Homo sapiens: one gene and its partner. The protein of the gene in region 1 purifies or fractionates together with the protein of each later gene. This does not show direct contact. Each region holds a gene or a part of one and is shown in the gene's direction. Other genes may lie near its edges. The genes, in order: UTS2 and KSR2.

Region 1 (4,574 bases):
ACCTGAGGTTGTGAAGGTGTTCATGTTTTTTCCCCTAGTAGTTCTATCATTACGTTGTAACCACTTTTCTTTCTTCTTTTTTTTTTTTTTTTTGAGACATGGTCTCGCTCTGTCACCCAGGCTGGAGTGCAGTGGGACGATCTTGGCTCACTGCAGCCTCAACTTCCCAGGCTCAAGTGATACAGGCATGCACCACCACACCTGGTTAATTGTTGTATTTTTGGTAGAGACAGTGTTTCTCCTTCTCTTTTTTTTTTTTTTTAGACAGAGTCTCGCTCTGTCACCCAGGCTGGACTGCTGTGGCGCAATCTTGGCTCACTGCACCCTCCGCCTCCTGGATTCAAGCAATTCTCCTGCCTCAGCCTCCTGAGTAGCTGGGATTACAGGCACGTGCCACCATGCCTGGCTAATTTTTGTATTTTTAGTAGAGACGGGGTTTCACCATGTTGGTCAGGCTGGTCTCAAACTCCTGACCTCGTGATCCATCCGCCTCAGCCTCCCAAAGTGCTGGGATTACAGGCGTGAGCCACTGCACCCGGCCGAGACAGTGTTTCTCTATGTTGCCCAGGCTGGTCTTGAAATCCTAAACTCAAGTGATCCTCCTGCCTCGGCCTCTCAAAGTGCTGAAATTACAGGCATGAGCCACCGTGCCTGGCCTATCTTTGTAACTTTTGTGTTTAGGTCCACAGAAAGTTTTGAGCAAAGAACTACCATGATCTGACTTATGCAGATGCTTCTGGCATCACTCTGCTGTGCTGAGCCTGTGGCAGGCCCGAAGGCAGACTTCAGGACGCCTGTCGGGGACCTTTCCACCCATCCGGGCTTGGACCAGCTTGGGCAGAGTACAGTTGGGAGTAGAGGCCACATTCTGGAAATGTTTATCAGCGAGTTTTCTGGTGTTAAGTCCTTCCTCCCTCCTTGCTGAATAATAATCAACTTTATGAAGTTATTTCCTTTCTCTGAAGATTGAAGTGCTTGCGGCTTCACATGAGGCCACGTGTATGTACAGAATTGTCTTGAGCCTGGAGCAATGTTTGCTATGTATTTTAACTTTTCACTGTTTTAAAGGAAATAGCTGGTTTTACGTTTTAATCCACAGATTGTCATTCTTCAGGGATGGCAGCCCTAAACACAGCATGGCAACTCATCTACTCACTCATGAAAGATTAAAAAATGGAAACCAACGTATTTCATCTTATGCTCTGCGTCACTTCTGCTCGGACTCATAAATCCACGTCTCTTTGCTTTGGCCACTTCAACTCATATCCAAGCCTTCCTTTAATTCATGATTTATTGCTGTAAGTTGCCTCTTTTGCCAGATTTATAAACTCACTGTTCTTTATATAATACCTACTTTGTACACTAGGCAACAAGACAGTTAATTTATTGTCTATGACTTGTTACCTTGAAAAATTACATCAATGCAAAGTGATTGCCTTTTAGCCTCCATAGCCAATAAATTCATTTTTTTTTTTTTTTTGGAGAGGATGATGTCAGGTCATAGGATGATATATATAATCAGTGAGCAGGCAGAATGAGGAGACAGTTGAAAGTTCTCTACAACAGAAGCCAAGAAGGAAGCCGTCTATCTTGTGGCGATCATGTATAAGCTGGCCTCCTGCTGTTTGCTTTTCATAGGATTCTTAAATCCTCTCTTATCTCTTCCTCTCCTTGACTCCAGGGAAATATCCTTTCAACTCTCAGGTAAGATTTTTTTTTTCCCCTTATGTTAGTCTTGAAAGAGCCTTTACTAGTCTTAAATTCAATGTTAGAGATAAGAATGGGATTCCTGCTCGAAGGAGTCTGGAGTCTTGTTCTCTCAATAGTCCCAGCTTTGAAAAGAATATTAAAGGATCCTTACTGCACATTTTAGATGTAGTAATGGATACAGTTTTTTTTCTGTCTCTACAATGTAAAAGGAGAAGAGGATAATTGCTTGTTTCATGTTACCTCTGTACTCTTGTTTTGGGTAATATATACATTTTTCCAATTTTAAAAATTGCATGAAATTTAAAACATCATTACTTTTAGTTTTTACTTTAAATGAACTGGTTGAATGTAGCACTGGTTGTTCTAATTATAGATTATTAATGGATTTATTTGTTTCACCTTTTGTTTAAAAAAATCATCTGATATGTGTTCTACGAAACAAAAATGTTTACTAAAAATTTTTTAGTAAATGACAAACTAGGGAACTAGGGAGTTCATAGACTTCCAAGTATATTGATCGTTTCCTTTTGATTTATGTTAATTCAGTTTAAGTCTAAGTTGAGTTAAAGAAATACACATCAGTCAAGTAGTTTCTCATTTTGCCATTATCTTTCCATTTAGTTAGAGAAATGAGAAAGCTAATGCTTGGGGATTAGGTTCCATCAAAAACTTAACTAGATTTAATCTTATCTTTAATCTTGAGTACTTTTTAAATAGGCTTTTTTTAAATAAAGAAAAAAAACAAACAAACCCTCTTTTAAGCCAAGGATTTTATAGTTTCTCGTCTCTAAAAGTTCATCCCAAGCAGCTTTCTGATGATCGTCAAGCACTGTCATCAGGCACTGCCAACCAACTTCCCGAGTCACCGAGATGATCATTGGCTGTCCTACTAATAGTTAAACACTGGCATTAACTTTACTGAATCTCTGCTATTTACAAAGAAACAGCACACATCTCAAGATGAAATAAGTGAAAATACTCAGCTACTACTGTCATCTTAAAAAATTTTACAAGTAATTTAAGAAACATAGATGAAATGAGTGTAGCATCTCACACAAATTCGAAACAAGTGGCAGCTTATCGCAGAATTTGTTCTCATTTATTTCTCCAGAAATGTGCTTTCCTATCAGCATTTACAGATGATGAAATTTTATAGATTTTCATTAACAGTCTTTAGAAGTGCTGTGAATGTGCTCTGATGCCTTTATGATGATCTGCTCACTGTCCTCCAATCAAGGTTGCAGCTATTTGTAAGCCTGTGGCACGCTGGTCCCACACATGGCCTCCCACCCTGACTCCCACAGCCTCGAATCGCAACACAGCAGCAGGTCTGCACTTACCACGCCTCACACTCCGGTGTGCCCTTTCCACACACCTTAAGCGCACTTACCATGCATTCTATATGCCATCTGGTCGACCACATTTCACATAGGAAATGCCACAATCAAGTTCCTTACAGATGATTTTGAAGCCAATTCTAAGTATAATAATTGTATTGAAATCTTGAAGTTCAGTAAAAGAAGAGGTGATACCATCCTACTGGCTTTATAGGAAGATTGTAAACGATCTTTCTTTTTCCTCTCCAATGTCACCACCCAAATATCTAAAAGCAAAAAGGCAGTAGGCAGCAGTAGATAAGCAGAAATGAGGGAGAGTCAGACTTTTTGAACCAAAATGGTTTTGAGAAAGGCTGTGGCTTATCCCTCAGCTCTTGTTCGAGGCAGCCGAGGGGCTTGGCTCATCACGCGGGTGTCAGATCCACGTCTCCCGGCTTCCCATTCTGCTGGCTGGCACACGGGCTGGTAGCATTTCCACCTCTTCTAGAATACCACTGATGACACGTCATGAACTCAGCGTTGGAAGTTTTTCTAGTGTTCATCTCCCTATCTCTGGTGCTCGCCAAAGACACAAGGAACAGAAATAACTAACTGAAGGATGAACCCAATTCTAAGTATCTGTTTTTACTCTGTAGCACCTCATGAAGACGCGCGCTTAACTCCGGAGGAGCTAGAAAGAGCTTCCCTTCTACAGATACTGCCAGAGATGCTGGGTGCAGAAAGAGGGGATATTCTCAGGAAAGCAGGTAAAATGCTTCTCATGTTTATAGCGTGTCTGATTTAATTGCTACTGAACTTACCGTCTGTCCTCATCTAGAAGAGGTAAAGCTCTATTTTGGAATATAAAGATGAGCTATATAAAATAAGTAATTACCAACACTCTCCCCTCCCGGCCTGTGCAACCTTCTTTTCCCCAGCAGCTCCTTGCTCGCACTGTGCTCTTTGGTACCTCAGCATTTTGTCTTTCTGTGTGGACTTTTATTTTTGCGGGGTAGAGCTTGGTGGTAATTATTCCAGTTTCCAGTGAGTGCAATTTAAAATCCTAGTTTCCCGTTTACTGAAAACTTAAAGTAATCTTTCTGTACTCCAGTTTCTTAATCTGTAATCAGGAATGATTAAGTTTCCACCTCAGAAGGTAACTTGTGAAGAGTCAATGAGTCAAGGCAAGTAAAATGCTCGAGTCACACAGAAAGTCATTAATAAAATGTCAGCTTATTCCCCCGTGGCCACATTCCCCCAAGCATTGACACATATGCTCAGGAAGTTCTGGAAACAAAATTGAGCCTTTTGCTGGGTGCGGTGGCTCACACCTGTAATCCCAGCACTTTGGGAGGCTGAGGTGGGCGGATCACTTGAAGTCAGGAGTTTAGGACCAGCCTGGCCAACATGGTGAAAACCCATCTCGACTAAAAATACAAATATCAGCCGGGCATGGTGGCGGGCACCTGTAATCCCAGCTACTAGGGAGGCTGAGGCAGGAGAATTGCTTGAACCCAGGAGGCAGAGGTTGTGGTGAGCCAAGATCTC
Region 2 (3,816 bases), on another chromosome or scaffold:
GGCACTGGTAGGATGGCTATGGGGGAGTTGCAGTTGTAGGAAATGCATCTGTTTTCAGTTCCCTTGTCCCAGTATGCTACAGAGCATGCAACCACTTTCATCCATCTTGCCCAGGGAATGCTCTTGAGCAATTATTCCAATTTGTATTTCCCAGATTTGCAGGGTTAGGGAGGGCCCCTGCAGAGGGGCTGGTAACTTAGGGTCCAGCCAAGTCCAGCCAACGCTAACATTTGGGTCCACGGAATTTTCTAATTTTGTATATCAAAACCATATGAGGGTGCTTGTTAAAATGCAGATTCTTAGCCTCTAACCCTAGAGATTCTAGTTTAGCTGGGATTAGCAAGAGGGTCAAGGAATCTGCGTTTAATAAACAGTCCAGGTATTTCTGATACATGTTTTCAAATGGACACTTTGAGATGCTAAACCATTAGGAGAAAGATGTGATATTTCAGCTCTTTAATGGTGAAAACTCACTGCTTGCTAACACTAATGCAAGTAATAAATTGAATAGATGATCCCTGAACAGTGCTGTGATAATGAACAGCACTTAATAGCATGTATACACTTCTGTAGAAACAAAAATATGCAAGGTGGACTTGGCCTTCAGGAAGCATACTTCATGATATAATAATGTGTATGTGAAATAATGATAAAGTCTAAGTGGTAAATAATATGGGGGACAATGTGTGAGCCCATTAGGCATGTGTTCAGCTGCATGAAATGGAAAACCCAATCCTAGCAGTAAGGCAAATAATGGTTTCTCTTCATGTAACAAGAATTCTGGAGACATATAGCTGCTTCAGTTGGCTCAGTAGGTTAGTAATACCAGGGCTGATGTCTTTGGGAATTCTCATGGCTTTTCTCTTATGGTTGCAAGATGGTTCCTGCAGCTTCAGCGATTACATCTGAGTTCAAGGTAGGAAAGAGGAGGACCTGGTGAGTGTGAAGGAATAAAGGGTTCCCCAGGACATCTCTTCCTCCTCACCTTGCAGATGATTTGATTATATCTTCTTGGCCAGAACTGAGTCCTAGCTGCAAGGGAGCCCGGGAAGTGGGGAAGTGGGACCACCACCAGGATCGGCTTAGATGGATCATGATCCATTGCCTGAAATGACATGTTGCCACTCCATGCAAAATCAGGGCTCTGCTAGTGTGGAAGGAGGCATAGGTAGATATTAAGTAAGTGGACAGCCAGCGATGGCAGCCATGGCACATAGTCAGAAGATATTTTGGTGGAAAAGAAAGTTCATGAACGTTGAGTCAGACTGATATAGTTGTAAATTCTAGCTTGTCTTTTTACTTTATCTTGGGCTAGTGATTTAAGTTTTCTGATTTATAGTTTTAAGTTTTTGGCAAAACAGCAATAATTAAATAATATTCCCTACTTCAGAGGATGGTTATAAGGATTGAAAGAGATAACGTTTTCAAGGGTCTAGCACTATCTGGAACAGAGTGGCTGCAGGTGCTAAATGAATGACAGCTGTGATGATGATAATGATTGGCATTACATGGTGTTGACTAGATGGCATGGAAGGGAGCAGTTCAGATTGGACAGAGAGAAGGAGGAGCTTGAGTAGCATTTCCAAAGTATGTTCTGTAGAACCCTAAATCTGTGGGATGTTAGCGTTTTTAATTCTTTCAACAAATGCTGACATCCAGGCACTGTACTTAATGCTGGTAGTCAATAAGTGTTCTGTGGACAAAACAAATTCTGTGGTTAATAAGTTTGGGAAGGGTTGAGTTAAGCAAAGGGAAACAGGCATCTTTACTGCAGGACTTTTCTCAGAGCCTTTAATATGCTACCTATGTGTATTAGGCCTCCAAGAGAGGATAGAACGGAGTCTCGCTCTTGTCACCCAGGCTGGAGTGCAGTGGCGCAATCTCAGCTCACTCTGCCTCCTGGGTTCCAGTGATTCTCTTGCCTCAGCCTCCCAAATAGCTGGGATTACAGATGCCCGCCACCATGCCCTGGTAATTTTTGTGTTTTTAGTAGAGACGAGCTTTTGCCATGATGGCCAGTCTGGTCTTGAACTCCTGACCTCAGATGATCTGCCCGCCTCGGCCTCCCAAAGTGCAGGCGTGAGCCACTGCACCCGGCCCAAGGATTTCTCCTGGGATTTTTGTTCCATAGGATACACCTGGGAAAACATTTGGCAAAGCAGGGAAACCTTCTTGGTTGGGGAGATGGGGATTTGGAGTGAAGGATGAGGAGGGTTTAGATTGCAGCAAAAGGGGAGAGCATGCTGGACAAGAACAACAAACCAGATGAAGGTATTTGAATGCCTTCATGGGGCAGCCTAGAGACCATTTTGCCCAGAATGGAGGGTACCTGGTAGCCTGTCATAGGAAATGAATTTAGGCCACTAACTTCTGGGATCCAACTAAAGATTAGAGAGTCAGACCAACAACGTTTCATCCCTTTGTGGAAGGAGATAGAAGTCTTCAAAGGTTTTGGAATGCATACAATAGAAAAGTATAAGCTTTTTTGTTTTGTTTTTTTTGAGGCAGGGTCTCACTCTGTAACTCAGGCTGGAGTGCAGTGGCACGATCATGGCTTACTGCAGCCTTGACCTCCAGGGCTCAAGAGATCCTCCTGCCTCAGCCTCTTGAGTAGCTGGGACTACAGGTATGCACCACCACGCTTGGCTAATTTTTTGTATTTTTTAAATAGAGACAAGGTATTGCTATGTTGCTCCAGCTGATCTTGAACTCCTGGGCTCAAGTGATTCGCCTGCCTTGGATGGCAGCCTACGGCAGGGGCTGGCAAACTTTTTCTGGAAAGGGACAGATAGTAAAGAGTTTAGGCTTTGTGGACCCTGCAATTTTTATCAAAGCTACTCGACTCTGTGCTGTAGCATGTAGCAGCCATGGGCAGTACATACATGAATGGGTGGGGCAGTTTTCTTTTTATTTTGAGACAGGGTCTCGCTCCGTTGCTCAGGCTGGAGTGCAGTGGCGTGATCTCGGCTCATTGCAACCTCCGCTTCCCAGTTTCAAGTGATTCTCCTGTCTCGGCCTCCTGAGTAGCTGGGATTACAAGCCTGCACCATCACGCCTGGCTAATTTTTGTATTTTTAGTAGAGACAGGGTTTCAGACCAGCCTATTGGCCAGGCTGGTCTCAAACTCCCGACCTCCAGTGATCCGCCCACCTCAGCCTCCCAAAGTGCTGGGATTATAGGCGTGAGCCATCAAGCCGGGCCTGGTGGGGCAGTTTTCTAATAAAACTTTATTTGTGGACCCTGAAACTTGAAATTGATATACTTTTTGCATGTCATGAATATTTTTCTTTTGATTTTTTTTTTGATGTTTATAGTTGTACAAACTGTAGTTTCTGGGCCTTACAAAAACAGGTGATGGTGGCCAGGCACAGTGGCTCACGCCTGTAATCCCAGCACTTTGGGAGGCTGAGGTGAGTGGATCACTTGAGGTCAGGAGTTTGAGACCAGCCTGGCCAACATGGCGAAACCCCGTCTCTACTAAAAATACAAAAATTAGTGGGGCATGGCAGCGGGTACCTGTAATCCCAACTACTCGGGAGGCTAAGGCAGGAGAATCACTTGAACCTGGGAGGTGGAGGTTGCAGTGAACCAAGATGGCACCATTGCACTCCAGCCTGGGTGACAGAGGGAGACTACATCTCAAAAAAAAAAAAACCCAAAAAACAAAACAAAACAAAACCCAGGCGATGGGTCATATTGGGCCCATGGGCTGTAGCTTGCTAATCCCTAGGCTGTAGGATAGATGAGAGGGGAAAAACTCTGAAAGACAGAGACCATCCTAAGGTGAGCAAGTGACACTAGAATGGGAGAGTACTA

What was found.
Region 2: the proteins of UTS2 (region 1) and KSR2 purify together in Homo sapiens (co-immunoprecipitation; one large-scale study listed by IntAct). This does not show direct contact.

The regions. Positions count from the first base shown.
Region 1 is NC_000001.11:7,850,031-7,854,604, reverse strand, and holds the start of UTS2 (urotensin-2 isoform b preproprotein), read left to right. Parts: upstream 1-1,539; 5' UTR 1,540-1,601; coding exon 1,602-1,704; intron 1,705-3,682; coding exon 3,683-3,793; intron 3,794-4,574. UniProt on the Homo sapiens protein: Highly potent vasoconstrictor.
Region 2 is NC_000012.12:117,962,288-117,966,103, reverse strand, and holds part of KSR2 (kinase suppressor of Ras 2), read left to right. Parts: intron 1-3,816. UniProt on the Homo sapiens protein: Location-regulated scaffold connecting MEK to RAF. Has very low protein kinase activity and can phosphorylate MAP2K1 at several Ser and Thr residues with very low efficiency (in vitro).